5 separate regions of the Homo sapiens genome follow, and all the other regions are linked to region 4. Evidence: fine-mapped expression QTL. A gene starts in region 4. Each other region holds a variant in brackets. All regions are shown on one strand. Distances are from middle to middle.

Evidence for each region. PIP is the estimated chance that this variant, and not a neighbour inherited with it, causes the effect.
Region 1: its variant is fine-mapped to the expression of GDPD5 in whole blood (TOPMed, PIP above 0.99).
Region 2: its variant is fine-mapped to the expression of GDPD5 in fibroblasts (GTEx, PIP 0.98).
Region 3: its variant is fine-mapped to the expression of GDPD5 in lung (TOPMed, PIP above 0.99).
Region 5: its variant is fine-mapped to the expression of GDPD5 in whole blood (TOPMed, PIP above 0.99).

The regions. Positions count from the first base shown.
Region 1 is chr11:75,439,091-75,444,190 of GRCh38, forward strand. It overlaps GDPD5 (glycerophosphodiester phosphodiesterase domain containing 5), which reads right to left. Exons shown (of 17, transcript NM_030792.8): 11 at 4,046-4,196; 12 at 3,273-3,491; 13 at 2,556-2,713; 14 at 2,073-2,220; 15 at 789-871. Among named protein-coding and RNA genes, the nearest start is that of KLHL35, 8.4 kb to the left of the region's middle. RefSeq lists an enhancer at 1,848-2,410. The variant T/G (reference allele first, on the strand shown) is at 2,896.
Region 2 is chr11:75,545,440-75,550,539 of GRCh38, forward strand. No RefSeq gene overlaps it. Among named protein-coding and RNA genes, the nearest start is that of SERPINH1, 14 kb to the right of the region's middle. The variant G/A (reference allele first, on the strand shown) is at 2,300.
Region 3 is chr11:75,464,067-75,469,166 of GRCh38, forward strand. All of the region lies in intron 3 of GDPD5 (glycerophosphodiester phosphodiesterase domain containing 5), which reads right to left. Among named protein-coding and RNA genes, the nearest start is that of KLHL35, 33 kb to the left of the region's middle. RefSeq lists enhancers at 2,084-2,756, 3,025-3,672, 3,673-4,319. The variant C/T (reference allele first, on the strand shown) is at 2,288.
Region 4 is chr11:75,523,655-75,528,754 of GRCh38, forward strand. It overlaps GDPD5 (glycerophosphodiester phosphodiesterase domain containing 5), which reads right to left and starts at 2,287. Exons shown (of 17, transcript NM_030792.8): 1 at 1,556-2,287. RefSeq lists an enhancer at 1,638-2,138 and silencers at 1,985-2,504, 2,555-2,614.
Region 5 is chr11:75,454,032-75,459,131 of GRCh38, forward strand. It overlaps GDPD5 (glycerophosphodiester phosphodiesterase domain containing 5), which reads right to left. Exons shown (of 17, transcript NM_030792.8): 5 at 3,662-3,755; 6 at 2,726-2,785. Among named protein-coding and RNA genes, the nearest start is that of KLHL35, 23 kb to the left of the region's middle. RefSeq lists an enhancer at 2,308-2,906. The variant T/C (reference allele first, on the strand shown) is at 2,628.

The DNA.
Region 1 (5,100 bases), 85 kb before region 4:
AGGAAACGCTGGTCCCCACCTGCAGAAACGGCCGTGGGAACAGGGAGCAGAGGGACACACACGGCAGTGGGACGGGAGGAGCAGAAAAGAGGATTGCGGGGGTAAGGGAGGCTTCAGGCGAGCGCGCTGTCTGCGAGGTGGCCCGGGCACAGGGCTTGGTGCACGGTGGGTTTTTAGACAGAACTGGAGAAGGGATGGCAAGAGGGAGAAAGAGGAACAGAAGGAGGAGGAAGACCACACCAGAATTACCTGATCAAGTGATAGCTGTGAGATGCCAGAGTGCAGCAGAGAGAGGGGGAGGGGGAGAGAGGAGGGACATGCGCCGATCAGAGCAGGATGGGACAGAGAGAGAACATCAGTCAAGAATAAAATCCCAGCCCCTTGGTTCCTGGCTGGGTGGGGGCCCCAGGCTGGCCCTAGACCCTCCCTGGGACCAACCACACCTCCCCACTGCGAGCACACCCCAGCTATCTTGCTGAGGGCTGGTGGGAACCCATGCCCTGGCTAACAGATGAGCAGGCCAGCCCGGTGAGGAGCTGAAATTCACCTAAGCCCACATAGCCACCCAAGGCAGAGCTTGGCTCTGGGATCCCAGCTGCATGTTCATTCCAGAAGTCACCCAGCCTCTGTCTGAGGGAGGATGGGGCCACCGGAGTCCGTCCTTCTTCCCTGGTCAGGCCTGCTCCTGGCTGAGGCCCAGGGCTCAGGAGAGGGTTCACCTGGCTGGGGTGGGGGCTGGGCCTGCTGCAGGGTAGGGACAGCCACGGAAGTGGTCAGATCCTACTCACTTCTGGAGCACGAAGATGCCCACGATGAGGGTGAAGGAGACCAGGTCGGCAGTGACCCACATGAGACAGTACTCGTCCGGGGGCTGTGGACAGACGGCCCGAGGCCAACTTCCAGTCATGGCCAGTCCAGACTGAGGCTCCAGACTGAGGGTCCGTGGACCAAAGGACCCCACATGGCCACTGGGGAAGGGCAAGGGAGGACCCTGAGAGGGTCTGGGGGCTGAAGATGACATTTTGCAGGTGTAGGCTCCAGGCGCTGTGGGCCTGGGGGCCGGGGCGTGTGTGTGCACACGTGTGCACTCTCAGGGTAGGAGGGGACTGTATGGTGCTCAGGGCAGAGGGGTTGTGTGCTAGGCCTGCAGGGTCTGTGTGTCTAGGGTCCTCAAAGCAGGAGCCAGATACTGAAAGACAATGGCTTTGCCGCCCCCCGCTGCCGACTCTCATCCATCGGTCTCGACCCTTTCCCCAGGCTGCCTTCCCTTCACCCTCCTCTCCCATAGAACCATCCACAGCTTAGGTCTGATTCATTGGCACTGCATTCTCTCAGCCATAAGGATACCCTCCACCTGCCTTCTGCATGCTCAGGGTGACAGTGGAGCCACCACCTATCTGCAGGTGCCCAGTCAACCAGCTAAAATATTGCTTTATTTGCTGTTCTCTGAGCAGATTTTAATTGTTTCCTATTCTTTTTTATTTTTATTTTTTGAGACAGGATCTCACTTTGTCATCCAGGCTGGAGTGATCACAGCTCACTGCAGCTTTGACCTGCTGGGCTCAAGCAATCCTCCCACTTCAGCCTACCGAGTAGCTAGGACTACAGGCGTGTGCCACCTTGGCCAGCAAATTAATTAATTATTATTATTTTTTTTTGTAGAGACAGGGTTGCCCAGGTTAGTCTTGTACCCCTGGGCTCCAGTGATCATCCTGCCTCTGCTTCCCAAAATGCTGGGATTATAGGCGTGAGCCCCACGCCCGGTCAATGCTTCCTATTCCTGTCCTTGTTACCCTCCAAAGCAAAGAAACCCAAGCAGCTCTTTACTTCTTTAGAGCCCTTAGTGATGCTTTTCTCCCTGTGGATGAGGCCCAGGGTCCTCCCAGCACCTTAGTGCAGATCCCAGATGCCATGAAACCCTCATGCCTCAAGCCTGCACGCCCACCATGGACTCCCCACCATGCTAGAGACCTCCCAGGGACAGCTCCAAGCACAGAGCTTGCCGAGTGGTCAGGGCAGGCTATAGGCAGCTCCAGCACTGCCCCCCAGGGGCCCTCTGCCCCCCAACTCACCATGATCCAGAGGGGGGAAGGCACCTGGGACAGGGCGTGGGAGTTGTCAGAGGTGACGGATGGGACCCCCGCACACCACAGCAGGGAGAAGAGCCACGGTGCGTTGACTGTGTAGAGGTTCACACTCAGGTTCCAGGACGCGTAGTCCCTGTGGGGCAGGGGAGAGGCAGGTCAGCATGCGGACCCTGGCAGCTCCAGGCCCAGTGTCGGGGCTGGTAAAGCACGTCCTGTTCACGACCTCACAGCCATGCCCGGGGCAAGGAACATTGGCTCCAGAGGGCCAAGCTCCGGGACAAGCCCGGGTCTGCCCGACACGCTCACCCTCTTGTCTTTGAACCATGTGTGCCTGATTCCTCTGTGTGCCCATCCCTCTGCCCGACCGTGTGTGTGTGTGTGTGTGTGTGTGTTGGGGGGTGGTGGTGGCAGGACTGGGAGAGACTCAGTCCCACCCTCTCCTGGAGGAGCCCAGGGCAGGGCAGGCACCTGAGCTCCTGGCGGGACACCTGAGTGTAGCGCAGGTTCAGCCGCTGGATGTGGCCTCTCCGCAGGCTGGCGACTGCCTCCTTGGAGCCTGATGTCTGTTGGAAGCCGGGAGCCACCTTCCGCACCAGGGGCCTCTGCCTGCTAGGCAGCCACATGACCTGCAGGCAGAAGAGAGGCAGCCTCAGACTTCTCTTCTGCACGATGCGTAAGAGTACCTACTCCTCCTAGAGCACCTGTGGGGTTAAGAGACAGGACCTGGCAGGCGGTGAAAGCTTAGATGAAGTCATTAGCAGGGCAGGACTCAGTCCCAGCCAAGGCTGCAAAGTGCACTGGCAGCAAC[T/G]CAGGAAACTTCGCTTCTGGCCTGCTGTCAGTACGGGAGGGAAAACCCAAACAGCCACTACTCTGCACATGGCCACTAGCACCTAGTGTGCCGTCCTAAACTGATGTCAGATTTCTCTGGTCCCAGATTATTACACCAAACGACAGGGCAACACTTCACTGAAATAACTTGACCGCCTGGACCTTTATACATTTTAAAGTGTTTTCTTGTTCCCCTCTTGTCCCATGATGACCCTGCCAGGGAAGTGAGCAGTGTGTGATCCCCATTTTACAAATGGGAAAGCTGAAGTCCGGAGTGCAACAGGGAAAGGCTATGCAGCAGCAGGGCTCTAGCCAGGCCAGGGCTCCCGGGGGCAGAGCTGCGTTGCAGGGCCTCACCTGGTGCTGGGGGAAGCCGGAGTGCAGCACGGCCTCCAGAGTCACGTTGATAAAACTGCTGCGGTAGGGGTGCTCCCGGGGCGGGTCACGCAGGTTGAGCAGCAGTGTGGCATTGCCCTTGGCCAGCTCCAGGAGCTCTGCCAGGCTGCAGATGGACTGGTTCTGGGCCTCTCTGTGGTCGGAGGGTGACAGGGAGCTGGCTGTCCAGAAGGGGTCAGTCTGGCAGGGACAGGGACACACACATGGCTGCATCATCAGCCCTTTGGGGGCCCCCACATACCCTTCTGGCAACCAAGCGTGGAGACCCCTGGGCTGCCAGAGTCTGCTGGGGTCAGGCAGATTGATGGCTGTGGCCATGTGGAGGCTGTAGGAGGCCCCAGCCCTAACCTTTCTACCCCACACCCTGCTTACCAAGAGGACGGAGGACGGCTTGCTTGGAATCGCTCCCAGACCCACAGCATTTCTCCTTCTAGAGCATTTCAGATCAGAGAGCCAACCCCTCTCTAGAGTTTTACAGAGTTAAGAATTCTATTCACTGCTCTCATCCCTGTCAACCTTTTCTAGTGAGGGAAATGGACCCAGAACAAGCAGTGACAACCATGAGTCTGGCAGCAGTGGCAGGAGCCTAGGAGGCCACTAAGCAGCTTGGGTGGAGGTCGCGAAAGCTCTGAGAGTGGGGGTCTCGAAGCTGATGGCCACCCTTGCACCTCTCACTCCTTGCAGTCCCTGCTGGTGTTTTCCATGCCTAAGATTGGGATCAGGTGCAGCCAGACCTTCAGGAACCACTGGCCAGCGTTGAGTCTCTGCAGGGTGGTCCAGTTAAGCATGGAGGCAGGCCTGCGGGCCAGCTCCGGGAACTCCTCCTCCACGTTGGTGGTGCGCCGCAGGGTGGTGTCATGCATGAGGAAGGGCACGCCGTCCAGGCTGCAGGGAGGGTGGGGCCACCGAGTCAGTGACCCCCCAGATCCTTTACCTGCCCACCAATGATCGTCACCCCACACAGTCCTCCCCACCCAGCACAGGATCCCGGCTGGCTCTGCCCCTCTCTGGGCCTCAGTCTCCCCATCTGCACAGGGAAGACAGTGGGCTGGTGGGTGACCCTGAAGGTCCAATGCCTTCTGGCTCTCTGTGAGGGTCAGATGGGGGTGGGGACTGCCAAGGAGGGAGGGCTGGGAAAAATCTGGACCTACTCTCTTAGCAACCTTGGAAGGTAGGTGCTGCCTCATTTGACAATGGAGAAACTGAGGCTGAGAGAGGGAAGTATCTAGCTCAAGGTCCACAGCCTGTAAGTGGTGGAACCCAGTTTGGAACCAAATCCCTGTGATGCTATGATGAGAACAGTGCAAATGTAGACCTCTTTGGCAAATTCCACCCAACCCCAATCCTTGTCTACTCTACCAGGGTTGCAAATAGCTCATATGGTGCCTTAGTGTGAAACAGTAAAAGGTACCTGTGCCCTCTGTTCCTCAAGGCATTTTACCACCATCTGCTAGAAAGTTGTGATAAACACACAATTCTATGTCTATACTGGGAACAATGTCCTCATTTATGTGATGCCCTTGTTCAGTATGCAACCTGTACAACTATATATGACAGTTCTGCCCTTCTTCCCTTCTCAGATAACCTCTGTTATGAGATTAGTATGGATTCTTCCTGCCATTTATACTAATATCTACTTATATATGTACATGGAGAAAGTGTATATGTCACTTTTTTGTGGTATTTTAAAACGTAACTGGAGTCACAGTGAATGTATCACTCTGCAACTTGCTTTATTTCCCTCATGAGAGTGTTGTAGCTCTATCATCTATTTTTCCCTTCAAGTGGC
Region 2 (5,100 bases), 22 kb after region 4:
TGGGTGAGGTGGCTCACACCTGTAATCCCAGCATTTTGGGAGGCCAAGGCGGGTGGATCACCTGAGGTCAGGAGTTCGAGACCAGCCTGGTCAACATGGTGAAAACCTGTCTCTACTAAAAATACAAAAAATTAGCTGGGTGTGGTGGTGGGCACCTGTAATCCCAGCTTCTCAGGAGGCTGAGGCAGGAGAATCACTTGAACCCAGGAGTCGGAGGCTGCAGTGAGCTGAGATCGCGCCACTGCACTGAGGGAGACCAGAGGCAGTCGCTGCCCTCTCTGAGTCTCTAGTTTCTGAGGCAAGCCCACCCCCAGAGAAGAGTCTTATTCTACATTGGATGAGATTTTGCAGTTTTAATATTACTTTTTGGTTTTATTACTTTGAACTATACTTTAAAAAAATTAATGATGGACAATTTCAAACATACCCAAAATTAGAGAGATGAGTCTAATGACCCCATCACGTACCCATCATTCAGCCTCAGCAATAGTGGGTCATACCAATCCTGTTTCCTCTGTGCCCCAACCTACTTCTCCCAGTGTAATTTGGAATCAAATCTTCGAGAAAGAAAAGAATGACTTCCTCCTTGCTTCTGAAAAATTAAAAATAAGAAGAGCCACTGCCCTCCACTGTTTGATTAGAACACTAAGGTTAGGGCATAAACCCGAGATTAAAGCTGGCAGGATCCATGGAACCATCCCAAGGACGGTGGGGTTGGTATATGTGTCCTTCACCATCCAGCTCCCACCACTCTGAACAGTGCTCGGCACATAGTAAGTGCTCAACAGATCATTCTGGTGCTTCTCCTCCACTTGCTCCTCTGTAGCCTTCCCAGGCAGCGGCTTTTCCTCTGTCAGGCATGAGCTGGGGCGGATACTCAGCTCTTCATCCGAGGCTGCAGGCTGGTTCTGCCCACAGCAATCCCATCCCAGGCTTGGCCAAGAGGAGAATTACTTTGCAGAATACAAGACATAATGAGGAAAAGCATCTACTTCAGTGCTCTGTAATGGTAGCCACTGGTTATCATAAAAGCAGTGGTGGCCAGGCGTGGTGGCTCACGCCTGTAATCCTAGCACTTTGGGAGGCCGAGGCGGGTGGATCACTTGAGGTCAGGAGTTCGAGACCACCCTGGGCAACTGGTGAAACCCTGTCTCTATTAAAAATACAAAAATTAGCCGGGTGTTGTGGAACACACCTGTAATCCCAGCTACTTGGGAGGCTAAGGCAGGATAATTGGTTGAATCCAGGAGTTGGAGGTTGCAGTGAGCTGTGATTGCACCACTGTACTCCTGCCTGGGTGACAGAGGGAGACTGTCTCAAAAAAAAAATTAAAAAAATAAATAAAAGTGGGAAGGAGACATCCAGAGAAAAGTTTGGGGGCAGGAGGGTGGCATATGGGCAGACATTTTCGGAACTTCACCGTCCTGTGTGGAAGGTGGCATAGAAGGGGTGAGAACAGAGGCAGCAAGATAGTGAGGAGACAGGAGCCACAATCGGAGAAGGATGAAGGTTTGACCCACCTGGGAAGGGAACCCCCAGCACGTGGCAGAGGGAGGAGCTGAGAATCCTTAGAGGCACATCTCTAAGGTGCCAGAGGTCCCACTCCGCCTGCCTTTGAGCTCCGGATCCTGAATGCCCCCAGGGAGGCTTTGTAAAGATCCTTCCTAGGACTGGCTACATTTTGCAGGACCCATTGCCAAATGAAAATGCAGGGCTCCTAGTAAAAAAGATTACTAAGAATTTCAAGATGGCGACAGCAGAGTACTGAAATAAGAACAGGGTTCTTTGCACAGGGCTGCTGATACAGAAAGAGAACATAGGACATCCAGTTAAAGTTGAATTTCACATAAACAATGAATTTTTTATTTTTATTTTTTAGTTTGTCTGTCTTGTGCAATACTTGCAATAACATGTTTCTGTTGATCTGAAATTCAAATTTAACTGGGAATCCTGTATTGTACCTGGCAACTCCACCAGGTGGGTCCTGTTTCCTCCCTTAACTGGAGCTCCTGGGAGTGGTTCAGGCTTAGGGTTCTTCCAGGATAATGGTTTTCAAACTTCAGCCTGCATCAGAAACATCTGGAGGGCTTGGTAAAATCCAGATTGCTTCCCCCCAGCCAGAGTTTCTGATTCATGCCTAGAGTACAGCCCAAGAATTTTCATTTCTGACAGGTACCAAGGTGATGCTGATACAATTGGTCCTGGGACCACACTCTGAGAACCACTGCTGGGGTACATCACCCTAGGAAGCCCCTCAAAGAGATAGAAAATCATAGTGACCCAAAACGGACACCAGAGG[G/A]CAGAAGCGCCCACTGGTCAGGCTATAGGACCTGCCCACTGGCCTGGGGCTGGGCTTACACCTTTGCTGAACATTTGTTCTGTGCCTGACCACGTCCAGGGCCCTGGAGCAGACAAAGAAAGACGTGGGTCAGCATTAGTCTCTGCCCTGAGGGGCTCAGGGTGTGGAAAGGGAGACAGATGTACGAAGTGAGAATTACAATTGGTGCTGAGATGGGGGAAGCACAGGCTGTGGGAGCCCAGGGGAGGCTGGGGGTGGTCAGGGCCCGCTTCCTGTAGGAGCCTGAACAGAGGGTAGGAGCCATCCATACCGGGAGAAGGGGAGGAGGGGCTTTCTGGGCATAAGAATACACAAGTACAAGGGCGCACACTGGACAGTGCCAGGGACTGCTTGAGGAGGAGTGCAGAGGTAGAGGACAGAATCGGTGGGCGGGTAGCCTGGTGAGGCTGGGGCTTGGCAGATCCTGAGGGTCTCAGGGAGCCCCAGGAGGGTTTTAACTAGATGGTGTGTTAGAATGAAGAGTGTCTGGGAAGAGATACCAGAGGCAGGGAGGCCTAGTGAGCAGGAGGGTGCAGTGGTCAAGGGAGGAGGTGACCAGGGGATGCAAGGGTGGCCCAGTCTCTCTCATCTGTTCCTTCATTCCTCCATTCATTGCACGTGTGTATGGAGCAACTTCTCTGAGCCAGGCCCTGGGTTGGGTGCTGGCTGCCGGCTGCTGGGACTTGGCATTGATGAAGACAGTTCCTGGCTTATGTGGAGAGCTCACATTTTAACTGAGAAGACCACCATCCAACAGCCAACCTCACAGTGAGCCAGCTAGTTACAGTTGTGGTCCCTGAGGGATGGGTACCAGAGATATCAAGGGAGCCACATGGCAGGGTCTGGGCAGAGTTGGGGTTAGGGTGGGGGTAGGAGGCATCTCTCAAGAGAGACCCTGACCTGGGCATCCTGACCTAGCGAACAGATGCCTCATTCAGCCCTACCCTGGTGCCTCCGTGCCGCAGCCCAGAGCTAACAATATGGCCATTGACAGCTCCTGCCACTGCCTGAGGTCTAGCTTTGCTGCCCCCATCCATCCTTAGCCACACAATCCTGGCCTTCAGTGGGGAAGAAAGAGCAGGATTATACTCAGGTACTAGGGACTGGGCCCACCCCTCCACCAGAGTCAGCCTGGCCCCAGCCCAGGTGAGTGCCCAGCCAGGCACCTTCCTCAAATGTCCAGTGCTCTTGCTCTAAGCATGTGAAGAGTCCGGCAGCTAGAAGCAGAAGGATGCAGGAGATGACCTGAAATGCCAAGGGGATGCCGTAGACTCGCAGGGCTCCTGGACGCACACTGTAGAACATTTGTCCATAGAGATGGGATTGGCCTCACGAATGACATAGATGCAAATCAAGCTAACTGGAGCATTACTTCTAGAAGGCTGACCTTCTTGCTATTCCTAGAGCATGCCTAGTTCATTCTAACTGTGGGGCCTTTGCCCATGCAGCTCCCTCTGCTTGGGATCCCCTCCTCCCACCATAAAGGTCTCCCTCCTCCTTTGGTCGGAGGAAGAATGGCTCCCCAAAGACATCCATGTCCGAATTCCTGGAACCTGTGAGTGCATTACCTTGCATGGGACAAGGGACTTTGCACATGAGATTAAATTACAGATCTTGAGATAGGGAGACTTTACTGGTGGCCCAGTGTCATCAGGGAGGTCCATCTCAAGAGGGAGGCAGAGGGGTCAGAGTCAGAGAAACAGATGTGATGAGGGAAGGAGAAAGCAGAGAGAGAGGGAGATTGGCGCTGCCACACTGCTGGCTTTGAAGGTAGAGGCAGGGGCCACAAGTCAAGGAATGCGGGTGGCTTCTAGAAGCTGGAAAGAGCAAGGAAGCAGATTCATCCCCAGAGTCTTTAGAAGGAGTTGCTAGCCCATTTAAGTCTTCTGACCTCAAAACCATAAAAGAATAAATTTATATCATTTGAAGCCACTAAGTGTGTGGTACTAGATACAGCAGCCACCGGAAATGATTACAGCTTCTTATTCAGATTTCAGGCTGCCTGGTGTAAAGTAGTCTTACCCACAACACCTGTTTTCATTTCTTGCTAGCCCTCATTATTACTGGAAATGATCACATTTCTTTCTTAGTTTATTGCGTGTCTCCACTCGCCAGCACACCAGGCTCCTGGAGGGCAAAGATCTGGTTTTGCCCACTTTTTTATCCCAGTACCTAGAACAGTGCCTAGTAAATTGTGGGTTCTCAATAAATCTTTGCTACGTGAGACTGGGAACGGTAGCTCACGCCTATAATTCCAGCACTTTGGGAGGCTGAGGCAGGCAGATCACCTGAGGTCAGGAGTTCGAGACCATCCAGGCCAACATGGTGAAACCCTGTCTCTACTAAAAATACAAAAATTAGCCGGGCGTGGTGGTGCATACCTGGAATCCCAGCTACTTGGGAGGCTGAGGCAGGAGAATCGCTTGAACCCGGGAGCCAGAGGTTGCAGTGAGCCAAGATCCCAACCGCTGCACTCCAGAGTGAGACTGTGTCTCAACAACAACAAATCTTTGCTGGGCACGGTGGCTCACGCCTGTAATCCCAGCACTTTGGGAGGCTGAGGCGGATGGATCACGAGGTCAGGAGTTCAAGACCAGCCTGGCCAAGATGGTGAAACCCCATCTCTACTAAAAATACAAAAATTAGCTGGGTGTGGTGGTCAGCGCTTGTAATCCCAGCTACTCGGAAGGCTGAGAATTGCTTGAATCTGGGAGGCAGAGGTTGCAGTGAGCCGAGATCATGCCACTGCACTCCAGCCTGGG
Region 3 (5,100 bases), 60 kb before region 4:
AGAGACTGAGCCGACTTCCACTCTACTAGTACTTTATGACCACATGCAGGATTGGGCAGGAAGGAGGGAAAGTCTTCTCACTGTCCAGAATCCTTCCATCCCACACCATGCAAAGATACCATCAGTCTGCCCAGGAACCTCAGATCCCTGTCACCACTTACAAGCTGTGTAACTCTGGGCAAAGTACTCATTCTTTCTGTGACTCAGTTTTCACCTCTATGAAATGAGGGCAATACTAGTACTTATGCCATGGGGTTGATGGAGAATTAAATGAGATAATACAAGTCAGGTGGCTTGGTGAGCACTCAGCACACTACCAGTGTATCTGTGACATCCTCTGCCTCTCCAGAACGTAGGAAAGGCCTTCACACCCTAATGGTCCATGACTCCATACCCACTAAGGGCCTGCTCCGTGCCTCGCCCTGGGCAAGAGGGCTGGTGCCTGGGTGACCCTCCTGTCCCAGGTGGGTCACTTCAGTTGGGCGACTCATGTTTGGGTGAGCAGCTGCCACCACTCCTTGTCATGTGCAGAGCCCGACTGCCTTGCTTAGCCTCACTTCGTACATAAACAGAGATGCAAAGGTGACGACACCCTGAGGCCCAGTATTTCTAGCAGGTTTAGGCTTGGGGAGGTGGTGGCTTCTCAGAGAGTAGGCCACTTGTGTCTGCCCCAGCTGGACACAGAATGGCACAAGCTCCAGTTCCAGGCACAGCAAAGCCCAGCCTTGGTCAGGAATAGGGAAACCCTGGCTAGGAGCAGGGCAGGACATGTGCCCTTCTAGAGCAATCGAACCCTAGGAGCTGCCACCCAGAGAATGGCTGAGTCCCTAGACTCAGTCCTGCCTCCCATGGAGGCAGTCTGGGTCTGCACATGACCGTCTCTCCACCACCCTCCAGCCAGCACCCCAGGACTAGTCCTTCTCAGAATCCGTCTTGCCACCTCAAATTCTTATTTGCTCATAACAGCCTTCATTCCCTGCAGAGTGCAGCTGGTGAGTCCCAGGCCAGCTTAAACATCTGAGTCTCCCAAAGGGTGAACCATGTCTTTAGACTGACACCCATCTGGTCACGTCATACCCCAGCTTGAGAGTCCCACTGGCAAGAGCTTCTCAGTAGATGTCAGGGCCCACTCTGTCTGGCCCAGGCCAGCTCTGTGCTTTATGCCCCATGCACAGAATTACATACGGTTCCCCAAACAGGCTCTTCAGACCCCAAGCCTTCACACAGCTGGAGCCTCCATCTAGAAAGCAACCTTTCTCTGCTCCATGAGGCAAACTACTCCTTCCAGAGTGCCTCCTCCCTGAAGACTCCCCTGTCTCACAGGGTGAATCCCATCTCCTCAGAGCTCCGTAACCCATGCAGCCATCTCACCTATGGCTCAGACCCCACAGTTCTAGAACTGTCTCTATACATGTCGGTCTCCCTGCTATACATAAATGCCTTGAGATCTGGGCAGTTTTCGTGTTCCAGATGGCACAGGAACTTGAAAAGATTTGATAATGAAATGATAGGTGAGGAAACACCCTTTCTCCTACCCTGGCATGAGTACACCCACCCAGGAGAGATTCCCCTGAGGCTTAACACCCAGTTCCCACAAAAAAGTACCTAGTCTTCTATAGAGCCCACGCTGGCAGTGTTAGATGGCTGTCTGTCCACAGAGACCACTTTGCCTCCTCAGGGGCAAGGCCTGTGTGCCTCTGACCAGCAGAGAAGGTTCTGAGAGGGACCTAGGCGAGGGGTGAGCCTCGGCCTAGGATGGGTCTGGTCCCAGGCAAGTAGCCTGGAGGCGGGAAGGTAAAGCACCTCCTGTAGGCGCTGGGAAGACGACCTGTGACCGGGGTGATGCAGGGCCCAGGGGCAAGGCTGACAGGGGGCCAGGAAGACCACAGGGGCCGGGAGGGCCCATGGCAGCCAGGGTCCTATGCCCTAAAGGCCATTGTCCTCAAGTGTCCAGATCCTTACAGTGGAGCAAGGCAGGGCAGGAATGAGGGGCTGCACCTCCCACTCCTGGGAACCAGCCAAGACCAGAGCTGGTGGTGGTTGGGGGTGAGGCATCCAGGCATGGAAGGAATGCAGGCAGGGCCTAAGCAACAAGGAGCCAGGAACCCCATGATCAGAACTAGTGCATGAGCTGGGGTTGGGGCAACCTAGGGATTAAAGCCCTGGGAGCTGAAGCCGGAGGCCACAGTGAGCCTGTAGATGGGGATGAAGAGGCCCCAGCACAGAGGGAGGCAGGCAGCGGGGGTCACTCTAAGAACAATCAGAGGAAAACACTGAATGGCAGGGA[C/T]TGGAAGGAAGGGAAGGGGAAGGTGAGGAAGTAGCCAGAGGAAGTGGCCTGGGGAGCAGCTCCACTGATAAAGAGGCCCCAATAGCACTAATGGTCCTTGTCAGGGCACATTACAGCAGAGAGAGGCCTGCCCGCTCCACCCATTAGCAAGCCAATCTGGCCCTGCTCCCAGAGACGTGGAGCAGTGATCGCTGCCTCAATGCCCCGGCCACGGCCCTCCTTCATCTCTCACAGTCTGCATAACACTAGGGGTTGTTTATTTAGGGGTATCTACCCCCATTGCACAGAAGCTCAGAGAAGGGCCACCACATATGGCTGAGCAAGTTGTGCACTGCCCCCTAAGAAGTGCCACTCACATCATGGTGACCATCAATGTGCATATTATGACGATTTGCTGGCACATGGCGGGCGGGTGTGTCCTAGAAAATGGGTGCTTTTTGCTAATTTGCATAAAGGCTCAACACGGGTGAGTGGAGGGGAGTCAGAGGGGTCAGCAGGTAGGGGAGGAGTGGGGATAAGATTTGAACCCAGGCATACTGACTGGACTCTGCAGGCCCCCTTGGGAGGCAGCCTGAACAGCTCCCCTCAAAACCCACCTTGCCCTCTGGGACCCAGTATGGCGATCCCAGGCCCAGCCTAGTTCCCTGGATTTCTCTCCTCCAACTCTCTGACCCCTAGGCCAGACCTGATGCTCCTTCAGGAAGCCTTTCCATCCCTCCAGGGCTCAAAAGGTCTCCCCTCCCTGACCATCCTGCACAGACTCTTGGCACCCACCACTGTGACCCTCAATCAAATTGTAATTGTGGAGATGGAAAGAGCACGGGCTCTAAAGAGCTGGCTCTGCCACTCAGCACGTCACTTGGCCCCTCTGAGCCTCGGTCTCCTCGTTGTAAATGGGAATAACAGCCCTTCCCTCGGAGGGAGGCTGTTAAATGAGCTGAAGGGCTTCAAGTGGCACACAGTGGGCGCATAATGAGGGTGGCTCACTGGGCTGCGAGCTCCCTCAGGGCAGGGATGGCCTGAGCTGTCTCTATGTCTCCTGGGCCCAGCATCACGCCGGGCACAAGGTGGTGGTCACCTATGGCGTGAGGGATAGAAGGAGGTATGGATGTGAGACAGGGCAACAGAGGGGTGCTCAGGGCCACCAGTGGGCAGGGCCATCGTGCAAGCCCCAGACTTACCCTCAGGGAGCAGGAGAAAAGCTGAGTGGGCTGGGGCTGAGGGAGCAGCTGGCTCCTGGGGTAGGCACCAGGAGGAGTGTGCTGGAGACTGCCTAAGGAGGGACCAGACAGGGCGAGCAGCTGGGGCAGGAGTGGCCCCTGGCTGTGGATGGGGTAGGATGCTGATTCCTGCCCGAGGGGATGGAGGCTGAGGTGGGGGCTGCTGTGATGGAGAATCCTGGAGGCTCCAACCCAGAGGCCACTGCATCTCCTTCCATTATTACCCTAACCCTCCAGAAACAGGAGCCCCTCCGTAGCAATCTGGGCAATTGTGGGTCAATTTCCCTGAAGGCCAGTCCTTCTCCTCACTGTCTCCTGAGGATGGTCATGTCTTCTCTTCACCCTTCTTTGTCTCTGTCCTGTTCCTCCCACCCCAGAGCCCTCTGTGTTCAGAGAAGAACATAGAGAAAGACCTCATTAGCAGCGGGGGCTCATACAGTCACAGAGCACGACTGCAGCCGCAAACCCAGCCCCACACAGGAAGCATGGGCATGGCCGCTGGGGTGGGATGGCTCTGCTGCTGCCTTTTGCCACTGGCTACAGGCCCCTGCCACTGTAGACTGCAGCCCCAGGCCAAAATGCACACAGCTGCCCCTCCCACTACTAGGGATCCTGAAGGTTATGGAGCACCTCCCCTTGGTCCCTTAACAGAACATGGGGTCTGAAGTCTGCACACATCACTCTGAATGTTACAGAATTTCAGAATCGCAGAGCTCCCCTGCCTGTCCCCTTGCCCTGAGGCAGCGAGCGTGTCTGCAGCCTCCAGGACACGAGCTCACCCTACTCTACTCCACTGGCTCCTGGGAAGGGGCTTCTCCTTCCAGATGCTGCCTAGTCCTTCTGTGGACTCAAAATTCTTCCTTCCAAGACATGGAGCCTGACAACGGAAGGCTGGGTTGAGGGAGTCTGGCAATACTGGGTTTGAATCCCAGACTGGCCACGACTGAGTGACCTTGGGGAAGACATTTACCTTCTCTGTGCCCCAGCTTCCTGCTCTGTAAAATGGGGACAGTATCGGCATGCTGCCCAGACCACTAAAACCTCCCATGCACGGCATCTGGTGAGGCTGACCTTCCAGGCAGGGGAGTTACTGCCCTCCCCCGACGCCCCCCCCCCGGGAGGTGGAGCTGAAATCTGCCTCCTCCACTGCTCCCCTGCAGCTGGTTCTCTGATACCACACAGAACAAGGCCAGCCAAAGGGTAAGAAATATTGGGGTCAAATGACCACAGAGTGGAGAATACACAAAAGAGCTGGATTTTCACCCAGGCCCTTTTCCCACCGGCTGTGTGGCTGTAGGCCAATCGCTCAGGACCTCTGACCTCAGCTTCCTCCTCTGTTCACAGAATGACATCACCACCACCTCACAGGAGGACTGCCAGGCCCCAGCACGATTACAGATGTAAGCTGTAAGTCGCCAAATCCAGGATCGTTCCTGTAATTATCATTTCGCGTCTGACAGCCCTTTAATTATGTGAAGACAGTGATCAAACCTTTCCTCCCTGCTCTACACCACATCTCTCCAGCTGCTGAGGACAGCCAGGTTGATTGCCTTCCCCCAACCCAGGGCGGGTGCCATGGTCAGCCAGATGCAG
Region 4 (5,100 bases):
GCTCTCTCCACGTCATGAAAGGAGATCACAGGTGTGAAATTATTTCATCAAAGAGCTTTGTTTAGACATAGAGATTATTGCGAGGATTTGAAGCCCCAGACAGAGGTCTGGGGTAGAGGGAATCCCAAGCCCCTCAGTCACCTTGTCTTTTGGGATCCCCTAACCCTTCCACCCCCAGGGATTGAGCTTCAGACTTCCACAGACCTCTCACCACGCTCCTCCACCTTCCAGGGGCTTTCCAAGGTGGTTTCCCCTTGACTCCAGGGAGTTGGGCATCTCTAGGGTTAACTAGGCCTAGCCAAGGCCACAGGGCCCAGACCAAGGCCATATCCCCTCCCCGTCCCCACACAGAATAAGAGCCCACAGAGTCCATGCCAAGGGCTCTTTCACAACACCCCTCTCCCTACATGCCTTGGGGGCAGCAGAAGCATCCCCTGCCTGGGAATAAAGACACCTGGGACTGTGCCCCAGCCCTGGGAGCCCCCAGCCTTGAGACCTTGAGCAGGTCCCTTCCTTCCTGGGCAGAGGTATCCTGCAGGTTCCCCTGCCCAGAAGAAAATGAGGTTGGACCTTCCATTTGGGCCAAAGGCAATGCGGTTGCAGGCATTCCTCGGGGCCCCAGCAACCAACCACACTAATTCTCACCACAGCCTCATACATGGTCGCCCAGATCTCACATCAGCGATAGGGAAAGCCCCAGCCACCTATCCAGAAGATCCTAACTGGGGAGGAGTGTGCATACCTTGAAGGATGCTCAGGAAGGTTTTCTCAAGTCTACTTGTGGCTCAAGGACTCACTGGCTTTAGGATCGGACAACTGGCACTCCCTTCGGGTGGGCCTCAGTGTCCCCATTAGTAATGTGAGGGAGGTGAGTCACGTGAGCCACATCTCCAGCCACCCCAGAGGGGCTACATCTCCAGCTCTGACAGACCCTTACTTGGGGATCTCTGCAGTGAATTCACCAACAGATAAGCACGTCTCAGGACCTCCAGAGTGTCTTAGAGACCCTGGAGTCTGACACACAAGGGCCAGGAGCTGCTGCTCTCACATCCTGGGCCCACAGGGAGAGAAGCTTTGGAACTGGGAAGCTTCCCACCTCTACCCTCAACTCTGAGTCACCTTTCCTCGCGGGTGACATGGCCAGGGAGCGGGAGGCAAGAAGAAGCCACTTCCTCAGCTTTAGCATCAGCGCTCAAGTGCTCTGCCTCTTCCCCCTCTATCCTCTCCCGCTTCCCCAGTCTCCTCCCCGCAGTGAAAGGAGGTCACTCAGCCCCGTTAAGCCTCAGTTTCTCCATCTGCAAGCGCCGATAATAATACACAACACCTATTTCAGGAGTAGCAGTGAGGCTTAGGCGGGGCGGGGCGGGGCAGGGCGCGAACCCGCACACAATGGGCGCTCAATAAGTACCCGTTTTCTTTCTTTCCCCTCCCCTTCCCGCGCCCCCTCCCAGCCAGTTCCAGCCTCTGCTTGTTTCCCCTGACACTCCCTCCGCTGGCCCCCGCGCTGCCGCGATGGGGTCGGGGACCGCTCCTGCCGCGCATCCGGGGCTCTCACCTGCAGCCTTGGCTCTCGCAGGCCGCCGGGACAGAAGGGGACCCCTGTGTTATCTTCGGGGCAGGCGCTGAACCCCTCACCTGAGGCGGGACGAAGGTGACAGCCTGGGCTCGCGGCACCAGCCCGGCGGTTCGGTCCGACTGTCCTGCCCGCCTAGGACCCCTCACCGAGCGCACGACCCGGCCAGGGCTTCCCGGGCGCTCGCGCTGTTCCAAGCTGTTCCAACTGAAGGTTGGGGTCTCGTGAAGCCAGAGGCTGGGGGGGTCCGGGGTCCCGTGCACCGGAGGCGAGGGCCTGGGGCCACACTGCGCTAGCCCTGGAGCTGGGGTTCCGACCCTCACTGACGGAAAGGCGCGGAGCGACCCTGCAACCACGGACCGGTACGGCGGCGTTAGGAGCGTCCCGTCCCGGCGCAGCGGGTCAGGGCCGGGGCTCCGCGCGTCCCGGCCGCACGCCCCGAACCGCGGGGCTGGGACGGGCAGGGCAGGGCAGGCGCCGGCGGGGAGGCGCGGCGGCCGGAGCCCCGCGGGGAAGTCTTTCCAGGTCCCGACTCGGCTCTCTCTGCAAAACGGGGCGAACCTCGGCGCGGCGGCCGACTCCCGAGCTCCCGGCCGCGGCTCCACTTCCTCCTCTTCCCCTGCTCCCTCGCCGCTCGCTCAGCGCCGCGCCGCTGCCACCTCCGCTGTCATCCCCGCCACCCACCCCCACCGGAGCCGCAGCCCGAGCTCAGCCGAAACAGCGCCGCCCAGCGCCCCAGCGCCAGCCTGCGCGGCCCCGCCCGGACGGGGCGGAGTCAGCAGAGACCCCGCCCCCGGCCGGCTGCGGGCAGGGGCGGGGTGCGCGCCCTCTCCCCTTCCCGGGCCTCGCGCGTGGGGCCGCAGGAGCCAATCCGAGGGTGGGAGCGGAGCGGCGCCCTGCGGAAAGCGGATTCTACCTCGGAGAGGGCGGGGCGGACAATGGAGAGGTGCGGCTGCAAGAGGACAATGGCGGGGCTGGGGGTTCGGAACGGGCCGAATCGGGGAGGGGGTTGGCCTCGGGACCCGGAAGGAGGGAGAGGCGAGAGGGCTGGCTTGCCTGGGACGGGGGCATGGGGACTGCTGTGCGGGGATTGCGGGGGTCACGGGGAAGGAGCAGGGGCCAGTGTAGGAAAAGAAGCCGGGGCGAGGCAAGGTGGAGGATATCCGGGGTCAGGGGTCCCAGGGACGCTGGAGCGAGCCCTCCTGAGTGGTGGGATGCCACCGACACCTTGCTTCTCCCTAGCTTCTAGTGCTCGGCGCTCAGAGGTGAGAGTTGGGCTGGGAAGTGTTCAGATTTCAGGAAACGGTGAAAAATAAGTTTTTGGAAATGAGCGAATTTGTCTTCCACAAGCCTCCCTTCCCTGCGCCCATCCCCGAGGAGGAGCGTCGTGGTCAATTTTAAAAATACGAACTCAAGAGCAGAGTTGTGTGAGGACACACACTTCGAATCGTGATGCATCTGCAGTCCGCTCCCGCCCCTTCCCACCCCGCGCGTTGGGTGCAGGAGCCGTCTTTATTTTCTATTTCATTTTATTTTGAGACAGGGTCCCGCTCTGTGGCCCAGGCTGGAGTGCAGTGGCACTATCACGGCTCACTGCAGCCTCGAACTTCCAGGCTAAAGAGATCCTCCCACCTGTGCCTCCGGAGTAGCTGTGACTACAGGCGTGCACCACCACATCTGGCTAATTTTTAAATTTTTTGTAGAGACAGGGTCTCCCTATGTTTTCCAGGCTGGTCTCGATCTCCTGGGTTCCGGCGATCCTCCTGCCTCGACCTCCCAAAGTGCTGAGATTATAGGTGTGAGCCCTGTGCTTGGCCAAGGAGCCGTCTTCAGTGTGTGCACAGGACCAGGCGCAGAGAAGGTGTTGGAGGGAACTGATGTATGAATGAAAGTTGAATGTGTGCCGCGGGGGAGTGGGGTAGGGACCATGTGAAAGCCGCTAACTGGCCTGGGGAGCTAAGGGATGTTGGTGGCACAGTACAGTCTCTTTGTAAACCTCACACCAACCTTATGTTGTGATAGGTACCCCATTTCACAGATGAGGACTCAGCACAGAGAGGCTAAGTGACGTTCCCGAGACCACACAGCTGGCACAGAGTTCTATCCACCCATCATTATCAAATTCTAGGGTAAAGCTGTGTGGCTTTAACAGGTTACTCTCCCTCTCTGAGCCTCTGTTTCCTCATCTATAAAAGAAGAATAAAGGTGCTACTTGGCAGGGAACCAGGTGAGGGACTGGGCAGGCAGCAGGCTTCAGAGGGTGAAGCATGGGCATTCCCTGCAAAAGAAATGGCATCAGACTATGGCTGAGAGACTGGTTGGAAGAACAAAGAAGAGGGTGAGCTGGAGGCTGAAGTTCAGGCTGCGGACTTGAGGGTGCCCTGTCTTCTTCAGGCCCAGGGGTTGGGAGTAGGCAAGTTGGGCCCAGGAAGTTGGGACTGGTCTCTGGAGCCTGAGGGCTGGGAGAAGGCAGTTTTGCCTTTACTTGTTGAACTTGACGCTAAGAAACCTTGTGGCCCTTCCCTCTGTCCAGAGCCCTCTCTGGCTCCCGGTTGCCAGCATGACCAAGCCCTACATCCCTAGCCTGGCGTTCCAGCCCCTTTGTTATTGCTCTCTGCCTGCTGACTCCACCAGCCTCATCTCCCCATTGCTTACTTCCCTCTCTACTTGCGCCAACTTCTCTCAGCTCCATCAGCAAGCAGGATGCATTCTGTCTCCATGCAGTTGTCTCCTCCATGTGTTGCTTTGCTGTTCCCCTTCTCTCTGGAGTTAATTCTCATTTCTCTGCTGGGCTGAAGGGCAGAACCTCTAGGCCAAATGCTCATCTGTTCTCTTCACTGCTGTATCCCCAGAGCCTAGCACGGAGCCTGGCACATAGTAGGTGCCAAGTAAACAATTGTTGAATAAATGACCCATCTCTCATGAGATTTATCAAGATTTATCTCCACCAAGATTTATCACCACCTCCGAGAAGCCTTCCTGAACTCCCCCAGGCTGCCTGCCTTTGGTCTGGGCTCCCTCAGCTTGAAGGTTCTGTAATGATTGATTTCCATGTCTGGTTTCCCTCCCACCCGCCACCATCCAGCCTGGTACATGGCCTGCCCTTGTGAGATCTCGGCACTGGGAGATGAATGAGGCTCTCAGAGAGTTCTCTGGCTGCCCCTGCTGCGAGAGCCTCCTTAGCTGGGTCAGATGAGCAGGATGTCAGAATAAAAGGAGATTTTCAGAACAGACCCTCCATGACCCCTGAGGCGCTGGGGGTGTGTGAGGGGGAGGCATGCCCAAGGTCGTCAGGAGGTGACTAGCAAACAGGTCTCAAGACACCCACATTTGCCCTCTGGCCACTCTTCCAAAGGGGAGGGAGTCTTGTGAGCTGGGGAATCTGGCCTTTTGGTGGCCAAGGAGTTCCATGAAGCATGACAGAGGTGGTCATGGTGGCTGGTCTGGGCGGTGGTCGAGGGTGAGGCTACACGGAAACATTAGCCTTTTCTGCCTGATGCCCTACTTCTCCCAAGAACCTTCTACCT
Region 5 (5,100 bases), 70 kb before region 4:
AATAAAAAAATATATATCCCCATGGTAAAAACGCAATGAGCAAAGTCCAAGGATGAATGACAAACTAGGAAGAATTATTTGCAGTTTGTTAGCCAAATGGCTAATTTCCCACATCTATAAAGAGTTCCTGCAAATGAATAAGCAAAAAGCAATGGCAAAAATGGCAAAAGATATGAAGAGACAGTTTTATAGAAAAGAAAACACAAGTTACTCAAACATGTGAAAAATGCCGAATCTAACTCACCCGAAGGGAAATGCAAATGAAAACTACAGCAAGGTACCACTTTTCACCCATCAGGCTGACAAAAGCCAATAAATCAGCTGATGCTTTATGGGCAAGGGTGTTTTTATAGAACAACTATCCATTGCTAAGAGAGCATGAATCGGAGGCACTTGGCAAGGAGGCCATTTGGCAAGATCAAAATGATGAAAGTACACATTCTTCACCCAGAAATTCCTCTCCCAGGTCACCACCACATCGTCCTGGCAAAAGACAGAAAGCAGCTGGGATGTCGATCCGGTCTATCAACAGGGAACTGGCTAGACGCCTAGGGAATCAGGGAATATCCAGACCAGGGAGCAGGAGCAAGGGATGGATACCAACAGGGATGCTTTAATGCAGCGAAGAAGGAGCTCCAAGAATTCTGTTAAGGTGCGGAACAGAGGGTGGAGTAGGCGACTGTTTGTGTTTAAAGAAAAAAGAAAAAGGAAATGCATATGTACATGTGCATGTGCTTAAAATCTGTCTGGAAAGATAGTGAGGAGACTTTCTTTGTATACTTTTTTGTGCTTTTTGTATTTTGAATCATGTCGATGTATTACATGGTCAAAAGTTAATTAAAGCAAACAAAAAAGAATAAAGAGTCCTTAGAATTTTAGAATCAAATGGCAGAATCTTAGAAACAGAAGAGAATTTCCAGGCCCTGCTGGAACACTCTGAGCTCTGGGGAACTCCCTCCTGGTGGGGCGGGTCGAGCTCTGGGTCAGCTCCACCTGAAAGGACCCTGCTCATGCTGCGATCTCACATAGGGGGCAGAGGGCAGAGGAAGGCACCCTGGGAGCTGGCACCAGCATGGACAATGGGATCTGCTTCCTTGCATTGATCTGCCAGCTCCAGCTGGCTCAGCGGCTCTATAGGCCTCTCCACTAGAATCAAGCATGTGTGACCTTACCTGCTGAGAGCCAGGCATGGCCCCAGAAGGTGACCACAGCATGTGCCAGCCCCACCCGGGGTGCCAGCTGGTGCAGTTCTTTCAAATGCCAGCTTTGCAGCCAGGAGAAGAAACTCCCTCACAGAGGGGATAGTGGAAGCCCAGAGGAGGCCTGTGAGTAGAGTGAGGGCAGGAGGAAGGTGGGGGGACCAGGGGCTGCTCACGGCTCCTACCACTCTAAGACTTCAGTCTCTGGGGTCTGACTCCCAAGCTCCAGGCCCATGTAACAAACCGGCCTCGGTGCCTCCCTGGATGCTCACAGGCACCTCCCACTCCACACAGCCCAACCCAGGCTCATGCTGTCCCCTCTTCCTTTCCTATTCCACATCCGTCTTCTAGCTAGAAGTGAGCCCCTCCCCTTGGAGTCATTCTGGCCCCATCTCATGGGCTCATGGTAGTTTCTGAACATTTCTGCCCTTTCCTAAATGGCAGGCCCACGGGGAGCCAGGCTCTGGGGAAAGGGAGACGATCCAGATGTTCCTGGGAGGGAGGGGCTCTGCCTTGGTCAGCTCGGTACCACTCTGTGCCCACCAGGGCCCCAAGAAGGCCAGGCATCAGAAACACACTTCAGCACTATGCCTGCAATGGACGTAAGGCAGAGAGTTAAGGCTCCGGAATGGGTGAAGCCTGTCTGCTTTGGGCCCAGCCCTGAGGGGGGGCACTGGGAACAGGGAGATGGAGGTTAACTCTGGCCTGCAAAGAGCACCTTGACTGGGTGGGTCGGGGTCAGGGAGCCAGACGAATACTGAAAACACAAAAACATAGCTGTTCAGACATGTAGCAGGGGAGGCTGCAGGGGCTGAGGAAGTCCCGGGAGAGAATCCTGTGTATGTAGGGGAGGTACTGAGGAAGGGGTCCGAGAGAAAAAGGGAGGGCAAGAGCAAAGTGCTAAACGGGGGAAGGAGGCAGACATGCTGGGAGAGCATGAGATGTCTCATGTAGCAGAAGCTGAGGGTGACTGTCCCATGATGGGTTGGGAGATCAGCAGGGGCCAGATCATGCCAGGTAGGGAAGTTTGGGTCATCCTGGGAGCGGTGGGAGTGGTGGAAAGGCTTTAAGTTGGGGAATGCCATCGCCAGATCAGGGTTTTCAAAAGAGCTCACCAAAGAAGGAAGAGGCAGGTGAGACCCGAGGCAGGGCCCCCAGAGGGTGGGTGCCACAGTATGAGCTGTGAGCTCTGCTGGTTAATCACATGACTGCGGGACCCTGGATCTTCCATGTTTAAACTGGGAGACCTTAGGCAAATCACTTAACCTCTTTGTACTTCAGTTTCCCCAACCACAAAATGGAATGATAACAGTACCTACATCACAAGGTTGCTGTAAGGGTTAAGTGAATGAAGACGGGTGAGGTTGTGAGAAAAGTGCTTGGCGCATAGTGAGTGCTCAGCCTTAGCTATGAGAACAATTCTAACGG[T/C]GATCCAGGGGAGGGACATGGTGGCCAGGCCCTTCCTCTGCTGCTGCTGCCTCCAGCTTCCCTTGCTCTCTCCCAGCCCCGGCCGAGGCGGCCCTTACCTTGTGCAGCCAGTGCAGGTTCATCTGCTGCCCCACGGCAATGTGACATAGTGCCAGGACCTGAGGAGGGACCCACAGGGTGATTGTCAGGCCCGTGTGGGCGGGAAGGCTTTGCCAGTTTCTCAGACACCCTGCTCCCCACTGCGGCTCTGGGCCTGACCCTGGGCAGAGGCAGCGAACCTCCCTCCAGGCGATGGGAATGCGCTGCCCTCCCCAGCCCAGCCCAGACTAGCCAGCCTGAGCCTGGCCTCCTCCCAGATGATTCCAGGCCTCTAGGCTCTTCCTCTGTGTGATTCCCCGTCAAGAGGTCACTGGGTGCTGCTGTACTTGGACTACTCAACTTCATTCATCAAACATTTTGGGAGTTCCAGTCCCCGGGATTCTGAAACAGACTTGAGCCTGTCCCCAAGGAGCCCCCAGTCCAGCATGGGGGATCCACCTGCATCTCAGTGAGTGGAATATCGGGAGCAAGAGCCTGAAGCAGAGGCTCCTGGAAGAGGAAGCCTGCAGTGGGCCCTCTCGGCCAGGACAGCTCTCACTGGGTCCGGGGCAAACATTCCAGGAAGGGGCAGCCTAGAGAGACGGGCAAAAGCAAGAGGACCTCCTGCTTTGGGGGACCCAGGCCTCAGGTGCAGCAGCCCGAGAGGCCCTGGGCAAAATCTGAATTAATGTGCCATATGTAGCCAACTTCCTACTAGTGGCATGAAATAGCTTCTGATTAGTCGCTATTATAAATTAAGATAAAAATGAAAATGTTATACATATCTTTCTGTATTTTTGATTACTTCCTTAGGATACATTCCTACAAATACAATATTCCTACAAATACAGCTTTCCCCTTTATACCAGGGTGGGACCCTCCATCAGCCCAGCACAGGGCCAGTATCCCTTCCCCTGGGAGCAGGGCCACCTGCCCTCCAAAACAGCCCCATGTACCAGGAGGCCAGCGATGTATGCGAAGGCAGCAGCTGTGGTCACAAGGATGGGTACGGGCCAGTCGCTCCAGTAGCCCATGCGGTTGTAGAGGTACCTGCCAGGAGGAGAGGGGGCAGGGGTCAGACCTCCACCAGGCCACTACCTGGCCCAGGAATCAGGATGGTCTGAGCCTCCACACAGACGACAGGCTGGGCTCAGTGACCAGGCTGTGCCCACCTAGCAATAAGGCTCAGCGTCTGCCTGATGCTCTACCATGCCTGCTCATGGCAGCCACCCGGGGACCAAGAAATGTAAAGGAGAAAATAATGCCCCATAATCCTATTGGCCAGAAGTAATCATTACCAAGGCTGTGCTGGATCTTCCTCCTGTGGGTTCCCCCGCCCCCATGCCTATATGTTTGTATAAACAGCAAAGCCAGGACCCCGCTGCACAAAGCAACACGGTCAGGAGCACAGGCTTTGGAGTGAGGCACACAGGCTGGATTCACATCCCCTCTCGTCTCTGCTTTTCACTGTCTTGTAGGACCTTGTGGAGGACAGGCTTCACTGATTCTAAGATGCCATCGATTGTCACTGTCATCTCAACTTCAATGTTAAGATGTGAAAATTGGGGGTCTTAGAATTGATCGAATGTAATACTTGACTTCTCTGAGCCTTAGTTTCCTCACCTATAGGATGGGGATAAGAAAGTGCCTTTTGAAGCCAGGTGTGGTGGCTCACGCCTGTAATCCCAGCACTTGGGAGGCTGAGGCGGGCGGATCACGAGGTCAGGAGATCGAGACCATCCTGGCTAACATGGTGAAACCCCATCTCTACTAAAAATACAAAAAATTAGCCGGGCGTTGTGGCAGGCGTCTGTAGTCCCAGCTACTCGGGAGGCCGAGGCAGGAGAATGGGGTGAACCTGGGAGGCAGAGCTTGCAATGAGCAGAGATCGCAGTACTACACTCCAGCCTGGGCGACAGTGTGAGACTCTGTCTCAAAAATAAATAAATAAATAAATAAATAAAATAAATAAATAAAAAGTGCCTTTCATGGGGTCTCATGAGGATGAAGTGAGGTGAGATGCATGGTAACTACTCAATAAACTCTCTTTGTTTTTGTTTGTTTGTTTGAGACAGGGTCTCTGTCACTGAGGCTGGAGTGCAGGGATGCGAACATGGCTCACTGAAGCTTTGACCTCCTGGGCTCAAGCAATCCTCCTACCTCAGCTGGGACCATAGGCACCCACCAAAATATCGGGCTAATTTTTTTTGTATTTTTTGTAGAGGCAGGGTCTTGCCATGTTTCCCAGGCTGATCTCAAACTCCTGAGCTCAGGTGATCCTCCTACCTCAGCCTCCCAAAGTGCTGGGATTATAGGCGTGAGCCACCACACCTGGCCAACTGTCTTCTCAACACAAGCATTTACTTATGCCAGTAAAAATCCTGAGAAAATGTGA